2 linked regions of the Homo sapiens genome follow. The protein of the gene in region 1 interacts with the protein of each later gene in a pairwise test. Each region holds a gene or a part of one and is shown on either strand. Other genes may lie near its edges. The genes, in order: ATP23 and HR.

Evidence for each region.
Region 2: the proteins of ATP23 (region 1) and HR interact in binary tests that used the Homo sapiens proteins (3 or more experiments, as listed by UniProt).

The regions. Positions count from the first base shown.
Region 1 is NC_000012.12:57,946,576-57,962,684, reverse strand, and holds the end of ATP23 (mitochondrial inner membrane protease ATP23 homolog), read right to left. Parts: intron 15,960-16,109; exon of another isoform or gene 15,925-15,959; coding exon of another isoform or gene 15,854-15,924; intron 15,691-15,853; coding exon 15,609-15,690; intron 11,972-15,608; exon of another isoform or gene 11,801-11,971; intron 10,928-11,800; coding exon 10,790-10,927; intron 9,080-10,789; coding exon 8,996-9,079; intron 5,999-8,995; coding exon 5,795-5,998; 3' UTR 3,537-5,794; downstream 1-3,536.
Region 2 is NC_000008.11:22,109,604-22,121,010, forward strand, and holds the end of HR (lysine-specific demethylase hairless), read right to left. Parts: intron 11,356-11,407; coding exon 11,113-11,355; intron 10,905-11,112; coding exon 10,739-10,904; intron 10,571-10,738; coding exon 10,501-10,570; intron 10,288-10,500; coding exon 10,157-10,287; intron 9,681-10,156; coding exon 9,561-9,680; intron 9,463-9,560; coding exon 9,347-9,462; intron 7,437-9,346; coding exon 7,272-7,436; intron 6,826-7,271; coding exon 6,697-6,825; intron 6,160-6,696; coding exon 6,097-6,159; 3' UTR 4,816-6,096; downstream 1-4,815. Other genes in the region: 8-oxo-dGDP phosphatase NUDT18, read right to left, coding at 1-340, 546-550. UniProt on the Homo sapiens protein: Histone demethylase that specifically demethylates both mono- and dimethylated 'Lys-9' of histone H3. May act as a transcription regulator controlling hair biology (via targeting of collagens), neural activity, and cell cycle.

The sequences.
Region 1 (16,109 bases):
AAGGGTGTCCTTTCCCCACTTAATGTTGTTTGCTTTGTCAAAGATCAGTTGGCTGTAAGTATTTGGGTTTATTTCTAGGTTCTCTATTCTATTCTATTGGTCTATGTGCCTATTTATACCAGTACCAGTACCATGCTGTTTTGGTGACTATGGCCTTATAATATAGTTTGAAATCAGGTAGTGTGATGCCTCCAGATTTGTTCTTTTTGCTTAGTCTTGCTTTGGCTATGCAGGCTCTTTTTTGGTTCCATATGAATTTTAGAATTGCTTTTCCTAATTCTGTGAAGAATGATGGTGGTATTTTGATGGGGATTGCATTGAATTTGTAGATTGCTTTTGGCAGTACGGTCATGTTCACAATATTGATTCTACCCATTCGTGAGCATGGGATGTTTCCATTTGTTTGTATCATCTATGATTTCTTTCAGCAGTGTTTTGTAGTTTCCCTGTAGAGCTATTTTGACTCCTTGGTTAGATATATTCCTTTTTTTTTTTTTTTTTCCCCAGCTATTGTAAAAGGGGCTGAGTTCTTTACTTCATCCTCTGCTTGGTTGCTGTTGGTATATAGAAGAGCTACTGATTTGTGTACATTAATCTTGTATCCAGAAACTTTGCTGAATTCTTTTATCTGTTCTAAGAGCTTTCTGGAGGAGTCTTTGGAGTTTTCAAGGTAAACAATCATATCACCAGCAAACAGTGACAGTTTGACTTTCCCTTTACCAATTTGGATGCCCTTTATTTCTTTCTCTTGTCTGATTGCTCTGGCTTGGACTTCCAGTACTATGTTGAAGAGGAGTGGTGAGAGTGGGCATCCTTGTCTTGTTCCAGTTCTCAGAGGGAATGCTTTCAACTTTTCCCCACTCAGTATTATGTTGGCTGTGGGTCTATCATAGATGGCTTTTATTACAAGGGACATACCTGTCCCTTGTCTGCCCATTTTGCTGAGAGTTTTAATCATAAAGCAATGCTGGATTTTGTTGAATGCTTTTTCTGCATCTATTGAGATGATCACATGATTTTTGTTTTTAATTGTTTGTGTGGTGTATCACATTTATTGAACTGTGTATGTTAAACCATCCCTGCATCCTTGGTATGAAGCCCACTTAATCATGGTGGATTATCTTTTTGATATGTTGTTGAATTCAGTTAGCTAGTATTTTGTTAATGATTTTAGCATCTATGTTCTTCAAGGATATTGGTCTGTAGTTTTCTTTTATGGTTATGTCCTGCCCTGATTTTGGTATTAGGGTGATGCTGGCTTCATAGAATGAATTAGGAAGGGTTTCTTCTTTCTCTATCTTGTGGAATAGTGTCAAAACGATTGGTATCAATTCTTCTTTGAATGTCTGGTAGAATTCTGCTGTGAATCCATCTGGTCCGGGACTTTTTTTGTTGGTAATTTTTTAATTACCATTTCAATCTCGCTGCTTGTTATTAGTCTGTTCAGGGTATCTAATTCTTCCTGGTTTAAGCTAGGAGGATTGTGTTTTTCCAAGAATTTATCCATCTCTTCTAGGTTTTCCAGTTTATGTGCATAAAGGTGTTCACAGTAGCTTTGAATGATCCTTTGTATTTCAGTGGTGTCAGTTGTAATATCTCCTGTTTTGTTTATTAGTGAAATTATTTGGATTTTCTTTCTTATTTTCTCAGTTAATCTTGCTAATAGTCCATCAATTTTACTTATCTTATCAAAGAACCAGCTTTTTGTTTCATTTATCTTTTGTATTTTTGTTGTTGTTATTGCTGTTTCAATTTCCTTTAGTTCTGCTCTGATCTTGGTTACTTCTTTCTTCTACTGGGTTTGGGTTTGGTTTGTTCTTGTTTCTCTAGTTCCTTGAGGTGTGACCTTAGAATGTCAGTTTGTGCTCTTTTAGTCTTTTTGATATCAGCATTTAGGGCTATGAACCTTCCTCCTAGCACCACCTTTGCTTTATCCCAGGGGTTTGGTAGGTTGTGTCATTATTATCATTCAGTTCAAAGAATTTTTTAATTTCCATCTTGATTTCGTTCTTGACCCAATACTCATTCAGGAGCAAGTTATTTAATTTCCATGTATTTGCATGGTTTTGATGGTTCCTTTTGGAGTTGATTTCCAGTTTTATTCCACTGTGGTCAGAGAGAGTGCTTGATATAATTTTGATTTTCTTAAATTTATTGAGGCTCATTTTATGGCCTATCCTAAGGTCTACCTTGGAGAAAGTTCCATGCACTGTTGAATAGAACGTGTATTCTGTGGTTGTTGCATGAAATGTTCTGTATATATCGGTTAAGTCCATTTGTTCCAAGTTATAGTTTAAATCCCTTGTTTCTTTGTTGACTTTCTGTCTTGATGACCTGTCTAATGCTGTCAGTGGAGTACTGAAGTCCCCCACTCTTGTTGTGTTGCTGTCTCTCATTTCTTAGGTCTATTAGTAATTGTTTTATAAATTTGGAAGCTCCAGTGTTAGATGCATATATGTTTAGGACAGTAATATTTTCCTGTTGGACATGGCCTTTTACCATTATGTAATGTCCCTCTTTGTCTCTTTTAACTGCTGTTGTTTTAAAGTTTGTTTTGTCTGATGTAAGAATAGCCACCCCTGCTCACTTTTGGTGTCCGTTTGCATCAAATGCTTTATTCCACCCCTTTAGTTTAAGTTTATGTGAGTTCTTATGTGTTAGGTGAGTCTCCTGAAGGCAGCAGATAGTTGGTTGGTGAGTTTTTATCCATTCTGTGGTTCTATTTCTTTTAGGTGGAGCATTTAGGCCATTTACATTCAATGTTATAATTGAAATGTGAGGTATCATTGCATTCATCATGCTCTTTGTTGCCTCTGTATTTTGGTTTTTTACTTTTGCTTTTTAATTTGTATTTTCGTTTTACAGATCCTGTGTGATTTATGCTTTAAAGAGGTTCTGTTTTGATGTGTTGCATTTCCAGGATTTGTTTCAAGATTTAGAGCTCCTTTTAAGCAGTTCTTGTGGTGGTGGCTTGGTAGTGGTGAATTCTCCCAGCACTTATTTGTCTGAAAAAAGACTGTATCTTTCCTTCATATATGATGCTTTGTTTCACTGGATACAAAATCCTTGGCTGATAATTGTTTTGTTTGAGGAGGCTGAAGATAGGGCCCCAATCCCTTCTGGCTTGTAGGGTTTCTGCTGAGAAATCTGTTGTTAATCTGATAGGTTTTCCTTTATAGGTTACCTGGTGCTTCTGTCTCACAGCTCTTAAGATTCTTTCCTTCATCTTAACTTTGGATAACCTAGTGACAATGTACTTAAACAATGATCTTTTTGTGATGAATTTCCCAGGTGTTCTTTGTGCTTCTTGTATTTGAATGTCTAGGTCTCTCGCAAGGCCAGAGAAGTTTTCCTTGATTATTTCCCCCATATATGTCTTCCAAGCTTTTAGAATTCTCTTCTTCCTCAGGAACACTGATTATTCTTAGTTTTGGTCACTTAACATAATCCTAGACTTCTTGGAAGCTTTGTTCATATTTTCTTATTCTTTTTTCTTTGTCTTTTTTGGATTGGGTTAATTTGAAGACCTTGTCTTCAAGCTCTGAATTTCTTTCTTCTACTTGTTCAATTCTATTGCTGAGATTTTCCAGAGCATTTTGCATTTCTAAAAGTGTGTCCAAAGTTTCCTGAATTTTTTATTCTTTTTTCTTTAAGCTCTCCATTTCCTTGAATATTTCTCCCTTCACTTCTTATATCATTTTTTGGATTTCCTTGCACTGGGCTTTGCCTTTCTCTGGTGCCTCCCTGATTAGCTTAATAACTAACCTCCTGAATTCTTTTTCAGGTAAATCAGGGATTTCTTCTTGGTTTGAATCCATTGCTGGTGAACTAGTGTGATTTTTTTGTGGGTGTTAAAGAGCTTTTGTTTTGTCATATTACCAGGGTTAGTTTTCTGGTTCCTTCTCATTTGGGTAGTCTCTGTCAAAGGGAAGGTCTAGGGCTGAAGGCCATTGTTCAGGTTCCTTTGTCCCACAGGGTGTTCCCTTGATGTATACCCTCCCCCTTTTCCGATGGATGTGGCTTCCTGTAAGCCAAACTGCTGTGATTGTTGTCTCTCTTCTGGGTCTAGCCACCCAGTGAGTCTACCCAGCTCCATGCTGGTACTGGGGGTTGCCTGCACAGAATCCTGTGATGTGAACCGTCTATGGGTCTCTCGGCTGTGGATACCAGCACCTGTTCCAGTGGAGGTGGCAGGGGGGGTGCAATGGACTCCATGAGGGTTCTTAGCTTTGGTGGTTGAAGGCTCTATTTTTGTGCTGGCTGGCCTCCTGCCAGGAGGTAGCGCTTTCCAGAGAGCATCAGTTGTGGTAGTATGGAGAAGAACTTGTGGTGAGTGGGGCCCTAGAACTCCCAAGATTGTATGCCCTTTTTGTTCAGATACCAGGGTGGGTAGGGAAGGAACATCAGGTCGGGGCAGGGATAGACATGTCTGAGCTCAGACTCTCCTTGGGCAGGTCTTGCTGTGACTGTTGTGGGAGATGAGGGTGAGATTCCCAGGTCACTGGAGTTGTGTCCCTAGGAGGATTATGACTGCCTCTGGGGAGTCATGCAGGTTGTCAGGGAAGTAGGGGAAAGCCGGCAGTCACAGGCCTCACCCAGCTCCCACACAAGCCGAAGGGCCAGTCTCACTCCCACCATGCCCCCCACCACAGCCCCAAGTCTGCTTCCAGGTGGTGGGTGAGACAGGCTTGAAAACTTGCCCCAGGCTACCCACCTCCCAGCTGTGAAAGAAAAGAGCTTGGTTCTTCCCCTCTGTGGATTCTGCACATGGGATTTGTGCCCTCTCCCAAGTTCTGGCCGGGAGGCTTCTTGCCCCATTGAAATAGTTACAAAGTTCAGCTAGAGATGTCCTTCTCCCTGTGGAGTTTTACCCGCTGCTCTTCTGGCTGCCCTTGCAATGGATCTCTGTGGTGACAGGCAGGAATGGGCTGCTTGGGGACCCAGCGAGCTCCCTGGGCCTTCCTGCTGCTTGCTCTACCCCTGTATTTCGCTCGGCTCTCTAAATTAACTCAGCTCCAGGTAAGGTCGGAAACTTCTCCCACAAACAGACCTTCAGTTTCTCCAGTGGGGGGGTGTGTGTGGGAGAGGAGGGTCTCCCTTTCCCACTTCTGCAGTTGGGCACTCACAGTATTTGGGGTGTCTCCTGGGCACTGTAGGAGCAGTCGCTTCCTTCAGAGGGTCTGTGGGTCCTCTCAGTATTGCTGGTTTGTTCTTGCAGTCGATCTGGAGCTAAAATTCGAGCACTGCCTTTATTAAAAAGAAAAAGATCTAACCAGGACTGTCCCCAGAAAATTAGGCCATATGGGTCCCACATATATGATAAAAGAAGAATAGGGAGAGGATAGCATTGACCACTGAATGAATTATTTCCAATTTTCATCATAACAACAGCTCAATAAGTATCCTACAATGAGATCAGTACACATTTCTTTACATTTAATGTAAATACCAACAGTGGTCACCTATCAACATCATGGAAGAGCACACTTCACAGGTTTCATAATCAAATTTTAAAATAATCACATGTAATAAAAACAAATGACTAAAATACAAAAATGTAATGTATTTATTTACTAAATGGTTAGCTATAAAGATACAATTTCTGCCTTGGAGTTTAAAGCAGTTTCATTTTTTGCCATAGTTACTTTTTCTGATAATATGCTAGAATCACAGTCTTCTCTGTTTTATCTGGATTGTAGGGATTGTTTACATTTTATATGTTTGTTCACTTGAGAACCAAATTTTTTTTTCTTCATGATGATGGAAGCTCTGTAATATAAAAATGTCATTGTGCTCATATATTTGAATAATACCGATCACGGTTTTCAAAGTCTCTGTGAGCATATCTTGCATAAGTCTTGTTATGTGGGATCCTTCCAAAAGGTTCATGGTCATTGAAACAAGATTCAAAAACTTCATCAACAGCCTTTTTAGCTACTTCTTTGCTGATATTCCTAACAGCCAGGATAGAAAGAGTGGCTCTGTCTCGCACACAAGTCTAAAAAGAAGGAAAAGTATGAGGCTCTAATTTTATATAAACATTTAATCACGAAATAATACATTTTATCTAATGTCTGAATTAATTAAAATTAATTTCCTCATATTATTTTACTAATTTCTGTCATTCCAAAGAAGAAAACAAAATGAACAAAGATCCATAACACTTAAGGAGTATTTTTAGCTCAACCTAAAATTATTTAGGCATAAGTAAGACCTTCTCCATTTTCTCATCTTTCCCACTGATATAAGCAGATGTCATTCTCAGAAATTCTTGGCAGTGTCTGCCAAACAATATCTCCCAATTTGCAAACTCGCCAAAAAAAAAAAAAAAGTCTATAAAGTCCTGATTGACTTTTTGATAAAATTTAATTAAATTTAAAATATACTTCACTTCTGTACCTCTCTTTCTTTTCAGTTGACCAATGCTAGATAACTTTTCCTTTGAGAAGGGTAAGTCCTCTCTGGAGGCAACAGGAAACCATACACATATCCACCCGAACTTGGAATGTACCTTAATTTTTTAGGGGGTGTGGAAATTAAACAACTTTTTTTTCCTGATTGTTCTTTACACAGATATTAAAGTTCTAAGATAATAATTTACCTAACATTTCATAGTAATAGGCTAGAATTTCTCAATACTCTAATTTAAATATTTAAGAAATATAAGGCCCTGCCATTCCAATTCTTGGAGAGCTTTTAATCCATTTATTTCTCCCCAGGACCAATCTAAAACTCAAAAGAATGGCATTTGACCTTTTCCTAAAAATAATCAAACACTGGTTTGGATGGCTGTGCATCCTGACAGCCATCCGTTTTCTCCACATGTTCCCAGTTTTTCATTGGCCTGGTCAGTGTGCTCAAGCTGGAGATATTCACTAACATTGGAATATAGTGTTTCTCAACCTGAATTTTACTAAACGCTGATTTTAAAAAATAAACCCCAGGCATAAAGGAACAAGAAAAGGAAGAACCATGTGAAGCCAAAACAACAGTTGCTAAAAAGAGAGGAAATTTCTCCCCTCCAGGGAAAAAAGGTACAAAAATTTGTCTCCTGAAGCCACAGGGTTGGGAGACACAAGTGTAGACCACAGATTTACTTCTTTTCAGACATAATAAATTTCTGTTAAAATAAAGATATGACTATGCAATTTTACAATCAGTAACTGTACTTGCTGTTTCTATTTCCTGGGTACATGCTGTACAAAAGCAGGGACTCCATTCTCTAAGACTCTTCTCCCTCAGCCAGATTCCTACTACCTCCACTTATTTTCTGTCCTATTGCTGTTTCTATTTGTTTTCTGCTGCTGCTACCCAATGGTAAAAAGAGGAAAACTTCCTCTTTCAAAGATTGTGTGCATCACAAACCTATCACAAAGATAGAAGGTGAATTAAAAAAAAAAAAAACATGCTCTATTTCTTTAGTATATCAACTGATTTTTTTTTAATTGGAAAAGAATATAAAATTAGCATATTTTTCTAAAAACAGAGTATATGTAATAGTTTTTTTTTTTAAGGAATTTTTCAAACTCTATTGACAAGAGCAGATATCCATAAGCTATGCCAGCACATGCTTTAACCACATTATTCTCTTCTCTAGGGGCGTGCTGATGTGTACCCTGCTTCCACCCTCTCCACTGACAGCCAGAACACACAGAATTCACCAGAGAAGCAGGGACTCAAGGGCACAGAAAACATGCAGCACAAGACAAGTCACTGGCATATCACTAAGCTGACCTGGCAGAGGCTGAACACCTCACTGTCTAGAGTAATCACCCTTTCCAGGCAGAAGGCTTTTCTTCTCCCTCCCATTCACTAAGTTCACAATTTCTGAGTAGCTCACTGTGACTTTCCACCCCCCACTCCAGAGTTGAGTTACTCTCTTCTCCAGAAAACCAAGGGCCTTCCTGTTGTCCTAAGCCTATCTTTTTTCATCTAGTTGGAACTGATATCGTGATGCTCATATACTTCACAAACTGACTCAGCAGGCTCTTACTGTAGAAAATGACTGACCAGCCTTTCTCCTAAATGTGGACACAGGCCCAGGCAGAACTGCTCACATTCATTATCAATCCATGAGTCCTATACTTTCTTTCCCCACGTCCACCTAATACAGATCTCAAAGCCTTTCTACCAGGATAATCTTGCCTTATAGCTCTCTTTTGTTTTTTGTTTTTGTTTTGTTCACACAAATCCCTCTCAGCTAAGCTCATCATACTCAAGTCTGTGCTAAGCCAAAGGTTTTCTATCACATTATATAGCCTTTACAGGTACACTGACACATAGCCATAACTTGTGCAGCAACACACTCTCTGTTCTGAAAGGGATTACATCTTTTGTCTCCAGAATGCTATGGTAGATTCAAAATAGAAGTCAAGAATTGTTAGAATAACAGTAAGACATGCTGTGATTTCACTTCCATTCCTTATCCACCCCCATCGAAAAGTATCCCAGATGCAAGATCTTAGCTCCTTTTTTTTTTTTTTTTTTTTTGAGATGGAGTCTCACTCTGTGGCCCAGACTGGAGTGCAGTGGCATGATCTCGGCTCACTGCAACCTCCATCTCCCAGATTCAAGTGATTCTCCTGCCTCAGCCTCCATAGTAGTTGGGACTACAGGTGTGCTCCACTACGCCCAGCTAATTTTTTTGTATTTTTAGTAGACACGGGGTTTCACCATGTTGGCCACGCTGGTCTCGATCTCCTGACCTCGTGATCCGCCCGCCTCGGCCTCCCAAACTGCTGGGAGGCATAAGCCACCGCACCAGGCCTCTTTTCATTATTAGACTATCTCACACACTCATTGAGTCACATAGCTTGCCCATAATTACAAAGTAGAACTAAATTCCATCTACTTTGTTTAAATGGTACATACTTTGTATTCTTTTCACATACGAAGTTCTTTCAAATTTCAAATACTGAATGTACTTTTCATTTCTTTATTCATTATTTCCACTCGTAACACTCTGGAGGGGAAGTGATTTCATATTAGTTTTTACCTGGTGGTGTTGTTTTAATCCAAAATGTAACCTGAATATTTCATTGACAAGTGAGCAGTCTCCACTAAGGTTAGCAGCTCGAACCTATCACACAGAAGACAAATAAAAAGAAATAAACGCTCATGCTCTATATATCTTTATGATATCAACCAATTTTTAAAAATTAGAAAAGAATATAAAATTAGCATCTTTGTCTGAGAAAAGAGTATTTGTGACACTTCTTCTTAAAGGACTTTTTAAACTCTATTGACAACGAGAGCAAATATCTATGAGCTATGCTAGACAATGCCAAATACACTGGAGAGATGGGGAAAAGTTCAATCGCCTACCAAAGGAAATTTTCTAAACTTTATGCGTAGCTTTACTGACAGAACTAATTTCTTTTGGAACCAAAAGTCAGAGAGCTAGACCTCAGAGTTAAACTACACACTCTACAAGATACAAATACTTGTAGAAATTGCCAAAAGTACTTCAAGAAAGCATTCTTGAAATAAACTGAGTTTCAATGTGACCTTAAAACTGAATGCATTAATATCTGAGACACTTTGAGAATATGCCCCTCCCAACCCTTGCCCGAATCTCCCTTGGAGCTTCCCTCAAACCTATATAAGTTCATGACCTTCCTCTAGGGACTTGATTGTCCTATGAAAAATGAAGCAATACAAAACACAAAGAATCAAGAACATTCCAAACTGGTCACGCTATGAGCATGACAGCCTGAAATTAGGACATATTTTCAGATTTACTATACTTCAATGAATGAAAAAGTCTTAGAACTACCCACATAGATTCTACAGGCAGCTTGACCACATTTTTGCTAATTCATTGCTAACAGAATGGCCCACTTCTTGTTCCTTCTTCAATATTATGGCCTCATTCCTCTGAGGAGCTCAAAGTACTTAACACACTTTAACTAGCTAAAAGGCATTAATTCTCACAGTACCCAAGAAAGAGACCTATTTAAAAATTCAGGTTTCAGTCTATTCTCCAAATAATTGGAATTATAATTAGATGCAGGGGGCTACATATTAATTTCAAGAGAAAGGGAAATAATCGAAGTTATATAGTATAGGCTTGAGATTTAGATTATTTTAATTAACTCTTCAATTAATGACATCCAAGTATATGCATATGCAGAATACGCTCTCTCTAGGAGCATATTCCAAGAGCAATCCAACGTGCTTAGTAATAAATATCTTTTTATGTTGTATTTTTGAAAAGAGCATGTTTTACTCTAGGGCAAGCAAGGAGCTCTATGGAAGGCAGCTGGGCAAGCTAGTTAAAAACACTAGTTGTAATCCTGCCTCTACCACTTACTAACTTTGGAATCTAAACAACTGTCTCACTTTCCACATATGTAAAACAGGGACAATAATAGTATAATATCTATCTCAGTAGGTTATTGTGAAGATTAAATAAGAATCTGTGCAAACAGAACAGTGTTTGGAACACAGCCCTCAGTAAATTTTAATTATTTTTTTATTTTTATTTTTATTATTAATGTCTCCTATGGAATACATTATAAAATATATTCCATAGGAAAAAATTAATAGCTTATTAAAGTCAGTCATCACTATTACTAGGACTTACAGGATATAGTTAAGAGAATTCTAAAAATACACTTTAAATTTCTCTAACTGTATATCAAAAATGGTATTCAATGTTAGTTATAAACCGAAATTCAAGACTAAGGTAGAACTATGACAGTAAGAAAAGGAATACATTTAAATAAATTACACTTGAATAAAATATTCAAGCATAGAGTATTCTGGAGAAAAATACAATAAAACTCACCTCTGAGCACGCCAAATGTCTGATGTTGGTGAACCAGTCGACATGGGCACGACAATGATCAAATGCATGAATAAGCTCGTGTGTGACCACTCTGTTCATATGGGCCTGATTATGGATATTATTCTGGCACAAAACTATCTAGGAGACACCAAAATAAAAGAAGTTCAGTGATTCTAAAATCTCCTTCCATAGACTCGATCTTCTCTCCCACATGACCTCACCTCTCCCCCACAAGCTCACCTGCCTGGAATATCTCTACCCACTCTTCTTCATTGGCCACACATCTACCCATGGGACAAGTCCTAGTCCTAAGTGTACATGCTCCAATTGCCTCGCCCAGTGACTAACTTCTCCCTTCTCCTCTCTCTGGACTACAGCAGTACTTAGATTAAGGACACGTATTCACACACCATCCTTACTGGGCTGATCGTACTAGTCTGTCTCGGACTCCACAGCATTATGGTTAAGAGAGTGGGCTTTGGAATGAAGCACACAGATTCAAATTCCAGCTCCACCCCTTACTAACTCAGTGACCTTAGGCAAGTTTCTTAATCTCTCTGTACCTCAATTTCCTCAACTATAAAAAGGAGATAATTAGGGTAGCTACCTCATAGAACTGTGAGAATTAAATGAGAATATATGTAAAATACTTCTTATCAAGTTTCTGAATGAGCATTGAATGAAAAAGGAATGACCACCACTGTCCTCATTTTACTAGAATGAGGGCAAATGCCAGGGAAAACTCATCAGAAAGACCTTCAGAAAGAAGTGCAAAACACAACAGCACACTGAGCAGGACCCTATAAGAATAAGAAAGACACAAGGGATCCTAATAGTAATAGCTGCCATTGATTGTGTACTACTGCCAGACACTGGGATATGTGCCAGATATTTATATACATTCATTCAACATCCATTGATTCAACTAATACTTATTGAGACCTAATAATAGATTATAATCTACTGATGGAGATAGAAACTAACCAAATATTTACCAAAATGTTTACATACATGCAATGACAGTTGTCATGAAGAAAAACCCAGGTTGTCATGAGCATATACAATGAGGTTGGGTGCAGTGGCTCATGCCTATAATCCCAGTACTTTGAGAGGCTGAGGCAGGCAGATTCCTTGAGCCCAGGAGTTCGGGACCAGCCTGGGCAACAGAGCAAAACCCCATCTCTATAAAAAAATAAAATAAAAATTAGCCAGGCATGGTGGCACATGCCTATAGTCCCAGCTACTTGGAAGGCTGAGGTAGGAGGATCACTTGAGCCCAGGAGGTTGGTGCTGCAGTGAGCCAGGAACACGCCACTGAACTCCAGCCTGGGCAAGAAAGGGAGACCCTGTGTCAAAAAAAAAAAAAAGAAAAAGAAAGAATGCCTGACCTACTCTGGAGGTGGGGGAAGGTTTCTCTGTGGAAGGAATGGTTAAACTGGTATCTAATGGAGGAATAGAAGTGAAATTTGAGGTGTGGAGGGGAAGGGAGTATTCTAGGCAGAGAGAAAAACCTATGCAAAGCGTAGAGGGAGGGTTGACGGAAGAAAATGCTTGAGAAGCTAAAAGGAGAGCCCTAGAGTTGAAGCACAGCGGTGGGGGTGGTAGGCAACAGATACGGCTGGTGAGGTCGGGGGGCCAAATCCCTGAAGACCTTGTCTTTACCCTAAGAGCAATGGGAAGCTCTCAGGATAAAGGGAATGTTGAAACAGAAGACTGCTTTTGTTTTATTTTGCTTTTATCCTTTTAACTATAGTTGGAAGAATAGGCAGGAGATGGCCAAAACTGGATGCAGAGAAATTAGCTGAAGGCTAATATTCTAGGCAAGAGAGAACAGCACTTCAGCTAGAATGGTGGTGGAAGCCAAAAGAGTTATTTAGGAGGTAAATTAGACAAAATATGTTGATAGAATACGGGGAAGGAATCAGGGGTATCAAAGATGATCCATAAATTTCTGGCTTGGCTAATAGGGTCGATGGTAGCACCATCCACTGAGATATGCAAAACTAAAAGACTGGGTTGAGTGGGGAGATGGGGGATGGTAAAAATCATGAATTTGGACTTACACATTTCAAGTCTGAAGTGTCCTTAAGACCCTTAAGTAGGTGGGGAGCAGTGGCTCTCACTTGTAATCCCAGCACTTTGGGAGGCTGAAATGGAAGGATCATTTGAGGCCAGGAGTTTAAGACCAGCCTGGGCAACATAGTGAGACCTCATCTCTACAAAAAATTTTAAAAGTTAGCTGGGTCCAGTGATGCACTCCTGTAGTCCCAACTACTCAGGAGGCTGAGATGGGAGGATTGCTTGAGCCCAGGAGTTCAAGGCTGTAGTGAGCCATGATTGCGCCACTGCACTCCAGCCTAGGCGACAGAGCAAGACCCTGTCCCAAAAAAACTTTTTTTCCTTAAAAATAAAAATAAATAAATAAATAAAAAGATGCTCAAGTAGAGGTGTTAAATGGGCACTTGGATATATGGAATGTGGAGTTCTTAAAAGTGAGCTTTGACCCCAGAAAATTGATGAGACCTCCTTGGCAGAGTAAGAAAAGAAGGGGCTCTATGACCAAGGATTGAGGGACTTTGACATTTAAATGCTAGTAGAGGAAGGTAAGCTAGCAAAGGAGCAACCAGAAGAGTGCTGTATACTAGAAACCAAAGAAAGTGTTTGGCATTAACAGCTGAAGTCAAGTGTATACAAACTATATGACCCAGTAATTCTGCTCTTGAGCATATACCTTAGAGAAACTCTTGCACATGTGCACCAGTAGCGAAGGTCAAAAATATTCATAGCAGCATTGTTCATAATAACAAAGTTGGAAACAATCAATATTAGAGTAAACTATAGTATAAACACACAACGGAATAAATACCATATAACAGGGAAACGAAATAAACCAGAGAGGTACACACAACAACAAGAAAGAATCTCACAAATGCTGAAGGTGGAAAGTAATTGGAGACTATATACTGTACAATTTCATAATACTACAAAATGCTACATAAAATTCAAAGTATAACATGTATAAAGCTCAAAAGCAGGCAACTAAATAACACACTGTTGGATTGTATATGTAGATGGTAAAGCCATTCAGAAAAGCAGGGAATGGTTACCACAAAAGTCAGGATAAGGAAGGGAAAAGGACCTGATTCAAGAGGACCACGAAGGCTTCTGAAGTCCTAGTAATGTTCTTTTTCTCTAGTCTGGGTGGTGGTTACATAGGTGTGCACTTTATTATTACTGAAAGTGTACATATAGATGTTTTACTCTTCTGTATGAATGAGATACTTCATAATAAAAATTTTCATTTAAAAAAATAGGCCAGGCACAGTGGCTCACGCCTGTAATCCTAGCAGTTTGGGAGGCCAAGATGGGTGGATCACCTGAGGTCAGGGGTTCAAGACCAGCCTGGCCAATATGGTGAAACCCTGACTCTACTAAAAATACAAAAATTAGCTGGGCATGGTGGCACATGCCTGCAATCCCAGCTACTCAGGAGGCTGAGGCAGGAGAATCACTTGAACCCAGGAGGCAGAGGTTGCAGTGAGCCCATATTGCACCACTGCATTCCAGCCTGGGTGACAGAGTAAGACTCTGTCTCAAAAATAATAATAATTTAAAAAATAATAATAAAATAAAAGGAGAGGGTGCCCAACTGTGTTCAACACTGCTGAGAATTAGGATGAAAGTTCAAGATGTGCACTCTGTTTAACCCTGGGGGGACCGAGAAGGGAGTGAACTTATCCAGAGCCATTTTGAGAGCTATAGGTATTGTGATTACCAGTTTACAAATGAGGAAACTGAGAAGAAGAAAAATAACTTGCCCAAGCCCCACAGATAATAAGCAAGGAAACTAGGATTTGAACTCAAGTCTGACTCCAAAATCTAGACTTCTCATCCTTGTTCTATATTGCCACTTCACATGATTACTGTAAAAATGCTATAAATAACCTAAATACATACAAAATTATCCAGCAGGAAACAGTTAAGTGTAGTTAAGTATGAATTATACATTCAAGTGGGAAACAGTTACTTATAACACCATCATTTACCCTGATCACATGACATTATCTACCACCTCCAAGACTCTGTCGAAACTCTCTGATGACTTAAAACTAATAATAAAATTTATTGAATGCTTACTATGGGCCAGGCACTAAGATAAGCAACTCTATAAGAGATATCTCATTTAATTCTCATAATCATTCCATAAAATAGATACAATCGTTGCCCAAATTGTACAGATTAGAAAACTCCCCTAATAAAAAATTTTCACAGGCAGTATCAATTCTCACCACGTAAAGGTAAAAACCCTTTAATTTAGCATTCAAAACCTCCCACCATAGGGCTTACATTTCCTTCCAATCCTATTTTCCCTCATTCCCCACATGTTCCTGCCCTCCAGATAAACTAGACAATATGCCATTCCCTACACATGCCATGCAGTTTCGTAGCATGCACTTTTGCTCATGCTGCCCCTGCTCTGTCCCTGCTCTGCCCCTAAGGAGGCTTTATATCCTCTAGTCGAATCTGTTGGCATCTTTCAATCGATCACATCACTGTTCCATTGTGGTAACCAAGCCCACCTAAAATGGTTTAGCTTGCCTCATTTTATAATTATCTGTGTTCATGTCTTATCTTTCCTGTAAGGCTGTAAACTCCTTAAGAGATTTTAAGAGTAAACTCCTTAGAGTAAGGATAACTAATTCACTTTTTTAGTCCTACATAAAGTCTACCAAACAGAATGCCGAGCATGTGGAAGATGCTCAAAAAATATAAAGAGAGAGGATTAAAGGGAAGGAAACAATTTGGCAATAATGCCTACCTGAGATGTTGAAGCATCAAAACCTCCACTGACATTTCCATTACAGTCTTCGCAAGAAAAGTGTCTATCTTTGTTAACAGCACTAAAAGGCAAGAAAAGGAGACAATGTCCAGAAACAGTGTGTATGTGGCAAACAGCCCTGGGCCAGGGCTCAGGAGACCCTCCACCATATAGTAAATCCCCTCTACTACTAACACATAGGAAATCTTGGGAAAGAAACAACATCTTCAGGACTGTTATCTCACCTGTAAAATAAGGAGGTTGTACACAAAATCCATTCTAGTTCAAATTCTATAGATATGATTCCATAAAACATTTGTCCCCCAGGCGCGGTGGCTCACGCCTGTAATCCCAGCACTTTGGGAGGCCGAGGCAGGTGGATCACCTGAGGTCGGGAGTTCAAGACCAGCCTGACCAACATGGAGAACCCCCCATCTCTACTAAAAATACAAAATTAGCCGGGTGGTGGTGGGCGCCTATAATCCCAGCTACTCAGGAGGC
Region 2 (11,407 bases), on another chromosome or scaffold:
CCGCCTGTCAGTCCCGTGCGCTCGGGACGTCTCCCAGCCGCCACCCGCTCGCCAACTCCCCGAGCGCGCACTGGTCTGCAGGAGCTCCGACGGTGACGTCATCTTTCCTGCAGGGCGCGTTGCGCCGCCGGGGTAGGCGACGGTGACGCGACAATCCGGTGACGTCACGGAGGCCCGGGGCCGCCCCCTGGAACCACTGTCCCGCTGTTGCCGTAAACACACAATGGCATTGCCGGAGTTGATCATATCCCAAATACCTTTCTTCTCATTCCACCAAAGAGTTATAAATGTCACATGGCCCGTGGGGTGGGGGACATAAACCCCTGCCTTGAAGGAGATTCTGCAATAGTTGGAGAGATGGACGGAGTCCTAGATGAGGAGTCAGCTGAGGGTTCGAGGCTAAGTGCTAAATGCTTGGTTTGGGCAGGAAGAGTGACAGGCGCTGGAAGGAGGGAGGGGGCAGGGCTGGGGATGGCGGGAGGGGTCCGGGGCTGAGAGAAGGCTGCCGTCAGCCGGCCCACCCTCATCAGTGTCCCTCTGCCTACCGCATTTCCCACGCAGCTCAAGGCCCTCTCTGCTGCAGATGGTGCGCCCTGGGAGGGCGGGGGTGGGGCCCTGCTCCTCCATCCTTGTCGTCACCCTCCCACCCAGCGTGCAGGACCTGGCGCGTGGAGAGCAGGGTGGGGGTGGTTGTGGCGAGCGCCTGCTCCTCTCCCAGCTCGGCCTTTCCTCCTTCACCCCACCTCAGCACTGGAAGGCAAAGCCAGCTGGAAGGGATCTGCGAAGCAGGCCGTCTGGCTCCTCACCTGGCAGAGGCCACCCCTTTCCTCTGCCTCTGATAGTTTTGTGCGCCTCCCTGCTAGGGAGACTGTGGCTTGGTGGTGTGGACAAAGCTCAGGACCTGCAGCCAGATGGCCAGCCACTGCTGACTGGCTTGCTCTGTGCTCCTGGGTGAGCTGTGGGCCTCAATTTTCTTATTTGTAGAGCAGGATCATAGCAATTCTTCTTTTACAGGGGTGTTGGGAAGCCACAACAATTGGAGAGGAGCTGTGTGGATTGTCCAGCACTGGGCACCGTCCCCAGGCAGCCCACCAACCCTCAGGGGTGGTCCCTCTCCACCATAGCTCTTGCTACCACACGCAAGGCCTGCCCTCATGAAATGTGACTTTTGTTATCCCCTAGAGTCAGGGTTTCACTGTGTTGCTCAGATTGGAGGTGCAGTGGCGTGATCACAGCTCCTACTGCAGACTTGATCTCTTGGATTCGAGTCATCCTCCTGCCTCAGACTCCTGAGTAGCTGGGACTGCAGGTGTGCACCACCACGCCTGGCTAAATTTTTAATTTTTAATTCTTTGTAGAAACGAGGGTCTTGCTGTATTGCCCAGGCTGGTCTTGAACTCCTGGCCTCAGTGATCCTCCCACCTTGGCCTTCCAAAGTGCTGTGGTTGCAGGCATGAGCCACCATGCCTGGCGAAATGTGCCTGTAGAGCTGCCTTAGAACTGGACTCAGGAACTTCAGCAACGCAGGATGCATCTCTTTAGGCTCCTCTCACCTGCTGATACTGACCACAGGCTCCCTGGAGGCAGGGCCCTGTGTTAGGCTGTGGGATATCACTAGAAGGCCCATGAATTTTGAGGCACTTGCTGAACGCCGCTGGGCCAGGCCCTATCATGGACCTCTCACCTTCCAAATAACTGCAGGCACAGGACCCCAGGACTGCAGAGCAACTTGTCAACATATTTGCTCTGTGTGTGTGTGTGTGTGTGTGTGTGTGTGTGTGTGTGTGTGTGTCTTGCGGCACACACATGTGTGAATCCCTCAGTTTTCCCACCTGTGAAGTGGGGGAAGTTGGACCCAGACTCCTGTCTGCCTCGCAGGGATGATTTGAGAGAGTGAGATCATGTCTAGGCAGGGATCTGGGAGCTTCAGAGGCAGCCTAAGGTAAACAACAGAAGGCCTCACTGCCCAGAGAGCAAAGACCGCAGCAAACCGTGGCTCCACGCCTCCCATTATCCCGGGGGGTAAAGCCCTCCCCCAAAGCCTCTTGTAAACTGTGAAGGGAGTGCTGAGACAACAAAGAGGCAGGAGTTCCCAAGGCCTTGGGAGAGAACAGCAGTGAGACAGAGGCTGGAGAGGCCCTGAGACAAGGGAGGCAGCTGAGGGAGGACGGGAGGCTAGATAGGAACCACCAGTGTCCCCATCAAGTCAACTGTGTGTCCTCCAGTCACAGAGAGGGAAGAACCCTGGCCAGTGTGGCGGGCCGCACAGTATGGTGAATGGGAGTAGCTTAATGCTCCCAGCACCCTTGGGAGCCAAGCCAGAGCCAGCCGTTTCAGGGCATATGTGCGCATGTGCGGTGGGGGTGGGATGGGGGGAGCACAGGAGCAGGAAGGCCTGGGTAGGCGACCATGGGGATGGGGATGGGGATAGGGACAGGCAGGGCAAGGTTGTATCAGGGCATCTGTGATGCTAGAGCCATGGACAGAGCAACAAGGCCTGTGTCTTGACAAGGTAGGAAGGTGAGGAGGGCAGGAACCCAAGCTACAGCGGGAGAGGGAGGGCTGGCCACAGGCTAGCTCTCTGAGGGACCCTGGGGACGCCACATCTACCCTCCAGGCCATCTGTCAAATGCAGGCATGGTTGGATCCTGGAACAGAAAAAGGGCATTCATGAAAAAACTGGTGAAATCCTGGTGAGGCCTGTTGCTTCGTTCGTAGTGTGGTATCAATATTAATGTCGTAGTTTTGATCAAGGCACCATGGTTATGTAAGATGTTCACAATAGGGGAGGCTGGGTGAAGGATAATTGGGAACTTCCTGTGCTATCTTTGTGACTCAGCTGTAAATCTAAAATTATTTCAAAATAAAAAGCCTGAGCATGTATATTCAGGGCAACTCGAATCTATGCTCCTGGGTAAAAAGGGAAAATAAAAAGTCTGAGAATTTTATCAGAGAAAAGGAAAGAAGGCATTGGGTATGCAACCCTGCGCTCACTTCCAGCTTGGCTGGTTGTATGTCTGGGATTTCTGAGCGACAGAGGGGCTGCAGGCAGAGCACAGCTGGTAGACCCTGTGAGCAGCAGAGGCCCAAGGGTCTCTGAGGAACAGTGCCACAGAGTGCCCCAAGACGAGTCTCCGAGTCAGTCCCTACCTGGTCCGGCTGCATTCTCAGGAACAGTGCTGGAACAAATGAACATTGATTCACTTCTGTTTACAAAGAGACCAAATATGTCCTCAAGGGCATTGTGACCCACCTGGAAGGCCAGAGGCGGTTAAGAGGAGATAAGGTCTTGAGGGGAAGACAGAGGTTTAGTGGTGCACTGTTCCCACCCCAATGGGTAAAATTCAGAGAACCATCTTCCCACAGGAAATACTCCAGATTTGGGGTTCTGAGGTGACATCAGGACATGGCTACAGAAGATGAAGTGGGGCATGGTGGATCACGCTTGTAATCCCAGAACTTTGGAAGGCCAAGGTGGGCACATTGCTTGAGCCCAGGAGTTCGAGACCAGCCTGGGCAGTGTGGCAAGACCCTGTCTCTACAAAAACTACCAAAATTAGGCATGGTGGCATGCACCTGTAGTCCCAGCTACTCAGGAGGCTGAGGTGGGAGGATGGCGTGAGTCCGGGAGGCAGAGGTTGCAGTGAGCTGAGATTGCATCACTGCATTCCAGCCTGGGTGACAGAGTGAGACCCTGTCTCAAACAAAAGATGAAACGTAGGTAGGAATGGGTCATTCGGGGCCACTTGGAACATGATCAGCTATAAAGCACGTACATTGGAAGAAGAAGGACAGAGAGGAGGGCAAGCCTGTCTTTAAATTCCACTAAGAGTTAAGACTATAATGTACACAAGGTGTCTTGACTCAGAAAACTTGGTTCAAATCCCAGTTCTTCCACTAAAATTGCTATGCGACCTTGGGTAATTTACTTAATTGTAGCTTGCCTGTTTCTTCTTCTGTAAAATGGAAATAAATCCTATCTGTCTTAAAATCCTGATAACGGATTAACTGAGATCATTTTAATAAAAGGGATTAAATGAGATAAATTATTATTATTATTATTATTATTATTATTATTATTATTATTTTGGAGGCAGAGTTTTGCTCTGTCTCCCAGGCTGGAGTGCAGTGGCATGATTTCGGCTGACTGCAATCTCCACCTCCCAGGTTCAAGCGATTCTTCTGCCTCAGCCTCCCGTGTAGCTGGGATTACAGGCGCCTGCCACCATGCCCAGCTAATTTTTTTTTTTTTTTTTTTTTTTTTTTTTGGTATTTTAGTAGAGACAGGGTTTCACCATATTGGCCAGGCTGGTCTTGAACTCCTGACCTCAAGTGATCCACCCGCCTCTGCCTCCCCAAGTGCTAGGATTACAGGCGTGAACCACGTCGCCTGGCCAGATGAGATAAATTAAATGAAAACAAAAGCAAAGTAAACTGTAGAGTTCTCAGTTTTTTCTTTTCTTTTCTCCTCTTTATCCCATAAAAAAATGAAAATAACTGAGTTCTCCAAACAATGAAAGAAGCCCTACATTTTTTTTTTTAAATAAAGCATAGTTTTGTAAATCATGGCAAAGCCACTTAATGGAATATAAGCAGTCATTTAAAATGAAGATTAGGTAGCAACACAGAAAATGATTATGATATGGTGTCGAAAGAAAGAAACCAAGGACAAAACACAGCAATCCAGCTATGTGCACAGCAAATCCTTGGGGAAAGCACTGGGAGGGAATATGCCAAAATACTCATAGTAGTTGGAGGTGTGTAATGATGGGCTAGAAGGTGACTTTCTTATTTTCTGAATGTTCTGAAAGTATATTACCCTTATAATAAAAAACTTTATTTAATAAAAAAAATTCCCCAAACCACAGCAGGAACAATTAGGTATGACAAGAGTGGGAGTGTTTTTCTTTGTAGGGCTGAGATACACAAAGGAAGCGGGAGAGGGCGGAGCGCCACCAGGAGGCTGCGGGCGTGGAGCGGGGACAAGGAGGGGTCGGCTGTCTGAAGCAGTCAGGCTCAGTCCCAGGGTGGCTGGGCCTGGCGTCGGCCATGGCCACTGCCACCAAGGGCAGACAGGCGGGGCAAGGGCTCTTCTGGGCCATACTTCTGGATCTCCAGGTCAGGGTAGACGGGAGAGATGGGGCGGACTGGAGCTTGCTGGGTGGAGTAGGGCTCGGGAGTCTCTGCACAGGGAGGTCACCTCGTGGCTGTGCCCCAGGACTCTGCCTTGCCTGCTCTTGCACTCAGGAGCATCTTTGGGGGACAGCCCCCCACCCCACCCAAAGTCTCCTCAGTGGGAGGCAAGGCCCCAGGCCCCAGACGAAGAGCAGGCAGTGGTGTCCTGTCCCTTGGGCCCCAGCTCCGGGCTGCCCTACTCCATTTGTCTCTAAGGCAGATTTCCATGTCCCCCTCCCTCCCTGGACCATGTGGCCTGCAGGGGCAGGGCCAACCACACTGGCAGCAGTCACAAAACAACAGACTTTAATGGAAATCATGAAGGAGGGAAGCGGGCGGACCGGGAAGGGGCTGAGTGACATCGCCCATGCCGCTCCCTCCGCCAAGCCTGAGCAGCTCCTGATGCCACCCTCTCCTCACACTCCCCAGATCTTTTGGCAGGAGGGCAGAAGGTTGGAGGCCCCTTGTTCAGCATGCCTGCAGTGAGCCCAGTGAGGATGCGGTGGTAGAAACGGAGCTGGGGCAGTAGAGTGGGCTCAGCGGGAGTGAGCAGCAGGAGGAGGTGTTGTTTAAGCCAGAATGATTCCCAAGTTTCCCCAAGGAAGGGCTGTTTGTCTCCTGGGTCTCGGAGGAGTGGGGATTGGAGGAAGTCAATTGCCCCCAGTGCGGGCCTGGTACCATGAAAAGGGGCACAGGGTGGGGGAGATGCCAGCCTGAGAAGGACAGGTGTGAGCTTGGTGGCACTGTGGTTGTTGGCTTAAGGGGGAGGGGAACAGAGTGCCCTGCTTGTGCCCAGAGTGGTGCTTGTGGGGTTGACCAGAAATCCCCAAGTCCCCTAGCGCCATCCCCTGCTGAAGTTGTGCCTGGGCTGAGCACCTGGTCTACCTGTCCCCACCCCGATCCCAGACACCTAGCATCCCTCTATTTGGCCTCCTGTAATGTCCCCACGGCCACCTTCACTGCTTGGAACACAGCCCAGTCCATCTAGGAAAAAGAGAGAGGACAAAGCATTTTCAACTACATTCCTGGGCCCACCCGCTGTCCCCCACCCTACTTAAAAGGAATACTCTGGCCAGATGCGGTGGCTCACACCTGTAATCCCAGCACTTTGGGAGGCCAAGGTAGGTGGATCATTTGAGGTCAGGAGTTCAAGACCGGTCTGGCCAACATGGTGAAACCCCACGTCTACTAAAAATCCCAAAAAAATTTAACCAGGCATGGTGGTGGGCGCCTGTAGTCCCAGCTACTTGGGAGGCTGAGGCAGGAGAATCACTTGAACCCAGGAGGCGGAGGTTGCAGGGAGCTGAGATAGTGCCACTGCACTCCAGCCTAGGTGACAGAACAAGACTCCATCTCAAAAAACAAAATGAAACAAACTAAACAAAAGGAATACTCTGCCCCTGCACAGGGTGGCTGCCTGCTTGGCACAGGGTGGGATCTGCTATGTCCACTGCAGCTGTGGCACAGGGAGGTGGGAGGCTTGGGTAGCACACCCAGCCTGCTGGCCCACATCCCACTCACCTGGGCATAAAGCAGGTGGCAGTCAGGGGGAAGGCTGGGTCCCTGGTGGCAGAGCTGAGCAGAGAGGGCAGAGGTCTCAGGGGAGAGGAAGTGCTGAGTGACGCTGACTGTGCTCACCAGGCCCTGCACCTGTGTCGGGGGGACATGGACAGTGAGGCTCAAGATCACACATCCTCTCCCTGTCCCCCTGGTCCCTGAGGTTCGCTTCCTCTAATGACAACCACCCCCGACCCCTGGCTCTCAGAGAGCAGATTCCTGGATGCACCACTGGACACCTCAAAGCCTGTGGCCAAAACCGGGACTCAGAACTGCTGGAGAGACCCTAAAGTCTCCCTGCGAGCCCCCTGACATCAGCATGCCCAGGAGACCAGGAGTGGACTCTGGCGCCAGTCCCAGTTGGGCTCAGTGACTTCAAGGCCTCTTGGCTCCCCCGTTATCTCTTCCCCACAGCAGCGTGCGGCTCCCTGCCCTGCCCGGCTCTTGGGTATTGAGGGGATGTTGGATGCCTGCGGCCTTGATTGGGTCGCTTCTGCCATCCTGATCTCCCCGCAGAGCCCCTGCCCGCTGGGAAGCACCTGGTGGGGAGCCCCTGCAGGCACCAGCACGGCCTCTCCGGGGGCCTGGAGCAGGGTCCAGCAGCTCACGCCCCACTCCTCCCGCAGGCGCCGCCGCAGCCCTGCATCCAGGTAGCAGCTGCCTGGGGCGCCAGGCTCCAGGGCGCCTGCCCCGGCCGGGCACACCTCAAAGAAGAGAAGGGGGAATGAGCGAGATGGGGAGGGAAGGGCAGGGCTGCAGGAGGATGGGGCATGGACTTTCCAGAGGCCAGGGGTGGAGAAAAGAGCCGAAGGGTCAAGTCTTGAAGGGCAGGCAGGGAGGGCATGGCTGAGTTTGTTTGGGGCTGGGGCAGCTCAGGTTGGCAGAACACACATTTGGCTGGAAGGAGCTTAGAAGGAAGGGATTCAAGGCCCTACAGTTGGGCAGACTGAATCCCTGCTTTTCTGGGGCTGGAGGCCTTTAACAGCCTCTGTGACCTCGGCCCCTCTCCTCCCTCTCTCAATGGTACCCCTTTCTGCAAATCCGAGGGAGACGTCCTGCATAATCCCAGTTCATAAACTGTCTACCAGGACTTCTTCATCTGAAGTCTTTGGAATGGCCAGAATTGTGTGCTAAGTGGTGGATGAGGAGAGAGCTGTGTGTCCCTGGGGAGACAACTCAAAGTGTTCATCAGGGTCTCCCTAAGATTCCGGATGCAGAAAAGGGAAGGACCACTGCGAGGCTCTGAGTGCCAGCAGGTGAACAGGCTTTCCGGCCAGGCTGAGGCCTCTGCAGCAGCCACAGCTACGGGGACCTCACAAGCCTAACCAGAGCAGGGAGCTCTCTGGGCAGGCAGGGACTCGCAGAGGACAGAGGTGCCCAGGGAACATGTGCAAAGGGGACGCCAGCATCGTGCTCCAACCCACCACCAGCCCAATCCACCCCCTTTGGCAAGGACCTCAGCCATTGCCCCTGGGCTTAGGGCTGCAAGATGGGGCGTGGGGGAAGGGAAGGCTGGTGAAGCAAATTGGACCCTAGGGGAGTCCCAGCTGGGTGCCAAGATTCCTTTGCCCTTGGAGATTCAGCTCCATCCTGGAGCTGAGCAGTGTTTCCCAGGCCACCCAGGGAGACTGTGCCCCTCAGCCCTGCCCCGTGAGTCACTGGGTTGGGCCGTAGTGACTGCCCACGGCCAGCCACACCCAGCCCAGAAGAGGCCATCTGTGTGTGGAGGTGTGCTTGTCTGCTCCCCTCTGCGTGTCCCAGCATCTGTGTGTGTATCTACACATGTGTGTACCTGTGGGCAGGAGGGGTGCACACCATGCTGGCCTCTGCACGTCTCCGTGTGTGTGTGTGCCTTGGCGAGGGGTGACACTAGGTGGAAGTCTTTTCCCCAGGATAATGAGGGCTCAGCTGGACTTGGGAACCACGGGGCTGCCCTCGCCTTACCCCTGGACTCTCTCCTCCCCTGCGCCTCAAGCTTCTTGCCTCCAGCCCACCCCATCACCTTCCCCTTCCCTGGCTCCTCACCTGACCCATCTCTCCCTCCACTTCCCTCAGCCCCCTTCCTTGCTAGCCCCTCCGGGAGCATCTCCTCCAGGCAGTCTCCCCTAACAAGATGCAAATACCAAAAGGTGGGCAGCCGGACGGAGTCTCAGAAGGCAGAGGAGGCTGCCTGCCTCCAGGAAGAGCATAGAGTAGTGACCTGGGGCCATGACAGACAGAAGCTCAGATCCCAGCCCTGCCACTGAGCTTCGGTGTTCTCATCTGCCAATGGGAAAGGAGCAGTGCCTGCCTCATGGGGCGGGGGGCTGAGACGGGTAACAGATAATTGTGCCTAAGGCCCTAGCACCACGTCCAGCCTCGGGCAGCTGGTGCTCTCATTTCATCATCGGGTCCAGGCTCTCCTGCCGCAGCCCCTGCCCCTTCTCTGAGCCCCACGGCAGAACTCCGGGTCCCCTCTGCCTTCTCTGCACCTGTCTGTGCGAGTTGGGTCTGTGCAGCTCACCTGAGGGCGTGGGGCAGGGAGCGAGCACATGGGACCGCACACTGGGGTGGGACTGGACGAGCTTCTAGGGCTGGGCGGGGGGAAGGGGAGGGCTCCCGGCTGCCTCCTCACCATCTGGAGAAAGCGGCGGATGCGCTGGGCGTCCTGTGCCCGGAACACGTGCCACACAGTGCTGACCTGGCTGCCCGGAGACCAGAGCCCCTCCCCGTCCAGGCCTGAAAGGAAGTCTGAGGAGGAAAGAGCGCTCAGGCAGGCCCAGGGCTGGTGGCGACAAACACTCACCTCTGTAGCTTGTCCCCGCTCCTGCCTCTGGCCGAGGACCTACCTTTCTGTGCCCGGTGCCAGGCAGGCAGTGGTGTGTCGGCATGCACCAGGATGCTGACCAGGTCGGCCACCTCCACACAGAGGTTCTTGGTCCCCAGGTGTCCCCGGTGCGGGCTCACACCTGCATGGCAATAGAGAAAGAACAGTTAGAAATGGAATCAGAGAGCCAGGCGCGGTTGCTCACGCCTGTAATCCTGGCACTTTGGGAGGCCCAGGCGGGCAGATCACCTGAGGTCAGGAGTTTGAGACCAGCCTCAACATGGAGAAACCCCCTCTCTACTAAAAATAGAAAAAATTAGCCGGGCGTGGTGGTGCATGCCTGTAATCCCAGCTACTCGGGAGGCTGAGGCAGGAGAATTGCTTGAACCTGGGAGGCGGAGGTTGCGGTGAGCCGAGATAGTGCCATTGCACTCCAGCCTGGGCAACAAGAGCAAAACTCCGTCTCAACAACAACAAAAAAAAAAAAAAAGAAAGAAAGAAATGGAATCAGAGAAGCGCTTCAGGCCCCAGGGCCTTGGCACAGACGCTCGTGTGCCCCGAGATGACAGGCAGACAGGCATGGGAGTAGAGACTGGGCAGGAGTGGAGGGACACTCACCATAGGCTGCCCAGAGCTGGGGCTCCAGTGGACGCAGGGCAAGGCCCGGTGGGAGGTAGGAAGCCAGGTTGAGTTTTCCATGGAGGGCGCAGTACTCCGGAAGTGGCAGACTGGCAGCTAGGTTCTCCACCCTGTCAGGGTAGGGGGTCATGCCCAGCAGGCCCAACCTGGGCACCAGAGACCCCATCAAAGCCCCACCACCACCGGGGTAACTCCCAGAGGGCAAACATGAGAGTACCAGGGACCACGGGGTGGGGGTTGGGGGCAGAGGAGGAGGGGAGGGCTGAACCAGGCGGGGCCTGCGGTGGCGGGGAGGTAGGGCTGGCCCTTGGTGACATACACACCTGCTGGTGTCCTCATCCCCCAAAGCTCGGTGCAGCAGGAGGACAGAGCCCTCGTCTGACTTTGGGCGAACTACAGGAGGAGACAGAACGGCCATTGGCCTCCTCAGCCCTGAAGCCCCTGCCCCGGCGGCAGCAACACCTGCTTCCAGCCCCTCGGGGTCACCCTGGGACTCCTCTGCCACCCGATCCCTAGGGCTTGGGCTCCCAGCTCCCTCTCCCCTGTGTTGGGGACACTTACGCTCAGGCCAGGAGAAGCCCTCCCAGAATGTTGTGCTGCCCAGGCTGCTGGGCTGGGGAGGTCCGAGGGGGCTCAGCGCCTGCACCTGGCCTCCAAGTGCCCCAAGAGCTTCTGTCCCCCACAGGTTGCCCTGCAATGTCCTTTGGATCCCTGACACCAACACAGGCTGTGGTGGGAAAGGAAGGAGGCCATGAGGAGAATGGCCAGGGTGCCCGCCATGGCCAGGCAAGGGCGTGTTGTAAGGGCAGTAGAACAGCTCGGGGACAGCCCTCCTGCTCCCCCTGAGCCACTGGGTCTGTCTGGGCCTAGGGACCAAGGCCCCGAGGGGCAGGTGGGGTGGCCAGGGCCGGGAGGGGAGGGGAGGGGTGCCTCACCTGGCCCTGCCTCCAGTGCTCCTGGAAGAGGTGGAAGCCACGCCGAGGGCAAGGCTGGGGCTCCTGCAGCCACAGCAAAGCCCCTGGGGGAGGCAGCCGGGGCCGCACTGGAGAGAGGGGCAGGCCCAGGCCCTTGCGCAGACCCGGGCCAGCTCGAAGCCCCGGCCCCAGGGCTTTCTCCTGGATCTTCCGTTCCACCACCTGTGCGATAATGCTGTCCAGGATGTTGGTGATGCGGTCATCCTGCAGAGAGGGGCACAGGGGCTTAGGACCCACTGGGCCCCACAGGGAGGGC